Linked DNA regions of Homo sapiens: region 1 is linked to region 2. The links come from fine-mapping of genetic effects on gene expression. A gene starts in region 2. The other region holds a variant in brackets. All regions are shown on one strand. Distances are between the middles of the regions. Region 1 overlaps LINC02456 (long intergenic non-protein coding RNA 2456). Region 2 holds the start of WASHC3 (WASH complex subunit 3).

Evidence for each region. PIP is the estimated chance that this variant, and not a neighbour inherited with it, causes the effect.
Region 1: its variant is the best candidate, but not a certain one, in a credible set for the expression of WASHC3 in whole blood (INTERVAL, PIP 0.78).

What each region holds. Positions count from the first base shown.
Region 1 is chr12:102,311,650-102,314,434 of GRCh38, forward strand. All of the region lies in intron 4 of LINC02456 (long intergenic non-protein coding RNA 2456), which reads left to right. Among named protein-coding and RNA genes, the nearest start is that of LINC02456, 33 kb to the left of the region's middle. RefSeq lists an enhancer at 1,253-1,788. The variant G/A (reference allele first, on the strand shown) is at 1,675.
Region 2 is chr12:102,060,222-102,063,006 of GRCh38, forward strand. It overlaps WASHC3 (WASH complex subunit 3), which reads right to left and starts at 1,770. Exons shown (of 7, transcript NM_016053.4): 1 at 1,691-1,770; 2 at 1,027-1,125. The coding sequence starts at 1,741. RefSeq lists enhancers at 1,429-1,478, 1,489-1,688.

The sequences.
Region 1 (2,785 bases), 250 kb after region 2:
GTGTGTCTCTGCACGTGAGATGGGTTTCCTGAATATAGCACACTGATGGGTCTTGACTCTTTATCCAATTTGCCTGTCTGTGTCTTTTAATTGGAGCATTTAGTCCATTTACATTTAAAGTTAATATTGTTATGTGTGAATTTGATCCTGTCATTATGATGTTAGCTGGTTATTTTGCTCGTTAGTTGATGCAGTTTCTTCCTAGTCTCGATGGTCTTTACATTTTGGCATTATTTTGCAGCGGGTGGTACCAGTTGTTCCTTTCCATGTTTAGTGCTTCCTTCAGGAGCTCTTTTAGGGCAGGCCTGGTGGTGACAAAATCTCTCAGCATTTGCTTGTCTGTAAAGTATTTTATTTCTCCTTCGCTTATGAAGCTTATTTTGGCTGGATATGAAATTCTGGGTTGAAAATTCTTTTCTTTAAGAATGTTGAATATTGGCCCCCACTCTCTTCTGGCTTGTAGGGTTTCTGCCGAGATATCCACTGTTAGTCTGATGGGCTTCCCTTTGAGGGTAACCAGACCTTTCTCTCTGGCCGCCCTTAACATTTTTTCCTTCATTTCAACTTTGGTGAATCTGACAATTATGTGTCTTGGAGTTGCTCTTCTTGAGGAGTATCTTTGTGGCGTTCTCTGTATTTCCTGAATCTGAACGTTGGCCTGCCTTGCTAGATTGGGGAAGTTCTCTTGGATAATATCCTGCAGAGTGTTTTCCAACTTGGTTCCATTCTCCCCATCACTTTCAGGTACACCAATCAGACGTAGATTTGGTCTTTTCACATAGTCCCATATTTCTTGGAGGCTTTGCTCTTTTCTTTTCTTTTTTCTCTAAACTTCCCTTATTGCTTCATTTCATTCATTTCATCTTCCATTACTGATACCCTTTCTTCCAGTTGATTGCATCAGCTCCTGAGGCTTCTGCATTCTTCACGTAGTTCTCGAGCCTTGGTTTTCAGCTCCATCAGCTCCTTTAAGCACTTCTCTGTATTGGTTATTCTAGTTATACATTCTTCTAAATTTTTTTCAAAGTTTTCAACTTCTTTGCCTTTGGTTTGAATGTCCTCCCGTAGCTCAGAGTAATTTGATCGTCTGAAGACTTCTTCTCTCAGCTCGTCAAAGTCATTCTCCATCCAGCTTTGTTCTGTTGCTGGTGAGGAACTGCGTTTCTTTGGAGGAGGAGAGGCGCTCTGCTTTTTAGAGTTTCCAGTTTTTCTTTTCTGTTTTTTCCCCATCTTTGTGGTTTTATCTACTTTTGGTCTTTGATGATGGTGATGTACAGATGGATTTTTGGTGTGGATGTCCTTTCTGTTTGTTAGTTTTCCTTCTAACAGACAGGACCCTCAGCTGCAGGTCTGTTGGAATACCCTGCCCTGTGAGGTGTCAGTGTGCCCCTGCTGGGGGGTGCCTCCCAGTTAGGCTGCTTGGGGGTCAGGGGTCAGGGACCCACTTGAGGAGGCAGTCTGCCCGTTCTCAGATCTCCAGCTGCGTGCTGGGAGAACCACTGCTCTCTTCAAAGCTGTCAGACAGGGACATTTAAGTCTGCAGAGGTTACTGCTGTCTTTTTGTTTGTCTGTGCCCTGCCCCCAGAGGTGGAGCCTACAGAGGCAGGCAGGCCTCCTTGAGCTGTGGTGGGCTCCACCCAGTTGGAGCTTCCTAAGCAAGCCTGGGCAATGGCG[G/A]GCGCCCCTCCCCCAGCCTCGCTGCCGCCTTGCAGTTTGATCTCAGACTGCTGTGCTATCAATCAGTGAGACTCCGTGGGCGTAGGACCCTCCAAGCCAGGTGCCGGATATAATCTCGTGGTGCGCCGTTTTTTAAGCCCGTCGGAAAAGCGCAGTATTCGGGTGGAAGTGGCCCGATTTTCCAGGTGCGTCCGTCACCCCTTTCTTTGACTCGGAAAGGGAACTCCCTGACCCCTTGCGCTTCCCAAGTGAGGCAATGCGTCACCCTGCTTCGGCTCGCGCACGGTGCGTGCACCCACTGACCTGCGACCACTGTCTGGCACTCCCTAGTGAGATGAACCCTGTACCTCAGATGGAAATGCAGAAATCACCCGTCTTCTGCGTCGCTCATGCTGGGAGCTGTAGACTGGAGCTGTTCCTATTCGGCCATCTTGGCTCTTCCCCCGTTTTACAATTTAAAGGTGATTAGGCTTCCTAAATGCTTCATAAAATGCCACTATGACTCTTAACTGTACAGCTTGCCTACTCTACAGCTGGGTAAGGCCTGGGACACATGGAGTTAGACACTGGAAAGGCTCAGATCTTATCTGCATTTCTGTTTGGGTCGTAGGCTCCACACCTAGTACATAATTAAAATCCCTTACCAAGGTTTTCACCAAAAGTAAAAGATGCTAAGAGTTAACATTTTAATATGTAATTGAGACTACTGAAAAAATAAGTTTACATACAAGGTTTGTAAAGGGAATAAAATGTGTTTTTGTGAGAGATTATAAGAAAGTATGGGAATGTAAATTTTTGTCTAGGTTAGAGGGTTAAAGATTTATTTTGAATTAAAAAGCTAAAGGTTAGAACAAGTTGTGAATGGTTTATAAAAATTAATTACAAGAGATTCTATGTGTGAATGTATTGGCTAAAGTTAAAATGGCATTATTCATTTTTTTTCTATAAATTGGACATTGGAATAGAAGAACAACAGAGTTTTCTTAGAACATTGTTCTGCTCTGAGAAAAAAAGTTGTAAAGGGTTATAAAAGGTTTATGAAAATCTTACCTTATGGTCAAACTAATTAAAACAATAGATTTATAAAATGTCATTAAAAACTAGCTTTAAC
Region 2 (2,785 bases):
ATGGTTCCCATTGTCTTCCCCATCCTCTTTTGGCTTTTTAAAAGACAGGGATTCCCTGGATCCTGGATCTAGTACCTAATCCTCTTTTTTAAAACAAAAACAAAAACAAAACACTGAGTTTCTCTGTTGTCCAGTCTTGTCTCAAATTCCCGGGCGCAAGTGATCCTCCTGCCTCTGCCTCCCGAGTAGCTGGGATTACAGGTGCGCACTGCTGTGCCAGTTCTGGTACCTAATCCCTAGTTGGGTACTTAATCCTTACATCACAAGTCATTTGCAGAAAATATTTTCATTTCTATAATCATATTTGATGCCAAAGTTATGTTTCTAGGCTATCTCCTCTAGCCATCTTTTAGATCCAGAATGTAAAATAAATTTAAACAATGTGGTTTTGGGGTACGGGAACGAATGACAAATTGCAAAATAAAAACTGTTTTCAACTGTGAAATTTTAGAAGCCGGGCGCGGTGGCTCACGCCTGTAATCCCAGCACTTTGGGAGGCCGAGGCTAGTGGATCGCCCAAGGTCAGGAATTCGAGACCAGCTTGATCAACATGTTGGAACCCCGTTTCTACTAAATATAAAAAATTAGCCAGGCATGGTGGCGCATGCCTGTAATCCCAGCTACTCAGGAGGCTGAGGCAGGAGAATCGCTTGAACCCGGGAGGTGGAGGTTGCAGTGAGCCGAGATCGCGCCACTGCACTGTAGCTTGGGTGACAGAGTGAGACCCTGTCTCACAAAAAAAAAAAAAAAAAAAAAAAAAATTAGATTTCCTATTGTTCCCTTTAATCGCAATAAGCCTGACTGACCTATCTCACAGGGACCTCTAGAACACTAACTCAGTAGAGGAGGGGTGCAGGATTGATTTTAACAGAGTAAAAGAGAACCTAAGATGTGTTAACACAATTGGGTGATGAGAGGTCACGGTACATGAATAAAGACTGTAATTCTTGTTTTACTCCATTTGTCAGTCTCAGCAGTGAAAGGTGATTTCCAGGCGACTCTATAAACCAGTATCACCGGACCTACCTCCTCACAAACTGTAGAAAAGCGGTTGAGGAACTGTACAGTGTGCACCACAAATTGGTTTAGAAAAGCCACCGTTCTTTTCTGTTGAATAGCTGGCACCTGTGTTACGTAAAAACAAACATGGTTCATACAGGAGGAACGTACACAGTGCAAATCTTTTCATATTTGGACATAATCACGAGGCACTTTGCTGTGTGATATGAATTTCTTGAAGGACTGGGAATAGTCATTAACTTGTTTCCTAAGCTGTGGGTGGGGTGTCCGAAGATGACAGAGGTGCACAAAAGTTTGAGAACAGGCTCTAGACTCACTGGTACGAATTTTGGCAGGCAAAAAGCACCACACATAAACACACACAAAATCTTGGGGGCTGAATAAGAGGTAGGGCTAGCTATCGCAACCGGCGTGTGTCGCCGGCGGCAGAGAGACAAGCGAGATGGGAAGCGACAGTTGGGAGATGCACACCGTCTCCTTAATCAGCTCAGGAGGGACCCCATTTCAAGGTGGACTGTGGGGCTCTCCCTCCTGAGGCCCCACAGGCCTGTCACAAGGGCCCGAGGCCGTGACAGGGTGGGGACTCGGAAGGTGGGTGTCTCCCCGGAAAGCTGCGTCTTCCCCATCCTCCTCCCGGCTCGTCGGGAGTCTAGCACCGTCTTTTACAAACCTTGGTCAGGTCTATGCCTGACCCCATGAGAGGAAGCCCGTCCTCATCCATCTCCTCAGCGGGCGGTGGACCCCGAGTTCACCCACAAACCCCTCCCAGATGGGGCCCGCCCAACCCGGTAATCACGTCTCAACTTTCCCCCCAAGTGCCCGCCTCCGGGGCCCTTCCCGCCGGAAGAAAGCTTCTCCGCTCACTAATCACTCGGCGGCTTCCGGAGAGCCCGCCTCCTCGCTCGGCATTCTGGGATTGGTAGTTTTAGTCCAGATTGTGACGTCAATTTCGGGGTGGCGCGCGGTGGTGCAAGGATGCAGTTAGAGCACTGAAATCTTAGAAAGGAGGCAACAAAACAAAACAAAAAAACAAAGCCAGAAGTTGCGTCCTTTTGAGGTTATCCCTACTTAGTCCTGTCTGTTATATAATAACTCCGTCATTCCTTGAGCAACAATTTTTTTTTTGTTGTTGTTAATCCTAAGTGCCATATACTCTGCTAGGCTTTTACTGGGAAAACAAAGATTGAGTTTGATTGCTGCACGGGAGAGGTTTATGCCCTGAAGAATGAGAAATAAGACCTACTTCCAAAGCGTGTGTGTGTGTATACACACAAGTTCTCGCTATTTCCCCAGGCTGGTCTCGAACTCCTGGCCTCAAGCGATTCTCCTGCCTCAGCCTCACACGATTCTCCTGCCTCAGCCTCACAGAGTGCTGGGATTACAGGCGTGAGCCAACGCGCCTGGTCTTCCAAAGGTTTTTAAAACATGAAATAAAATGTCAACTACTAGATGTGAGGCACAAACCTACGGAAGTGACTGCCACTTACAGGGAGCATCAAAAAGATGAAGACCAAGACTGCAGTGGGCAGTTTTGTTTTAAAGATGGGGGGTCTCGCTTTGTTACCCAGTCTGGCGTGCAGTGAGGATCATAGCTCACCTTAGTCTCAAACCCTTTGGCTCAAATGATCCTCATGCCTTGGCCTCCCTAAGTGCTGGGATTATAGGTGTGAGCCACTGGCACCTGGCCTGTTGGTTTGGTTGAAGCAAATAATCCCATAAATGGAGAATGGTAGGAAATGAGGTAAGAGTGTTACTGGTGGAGGGT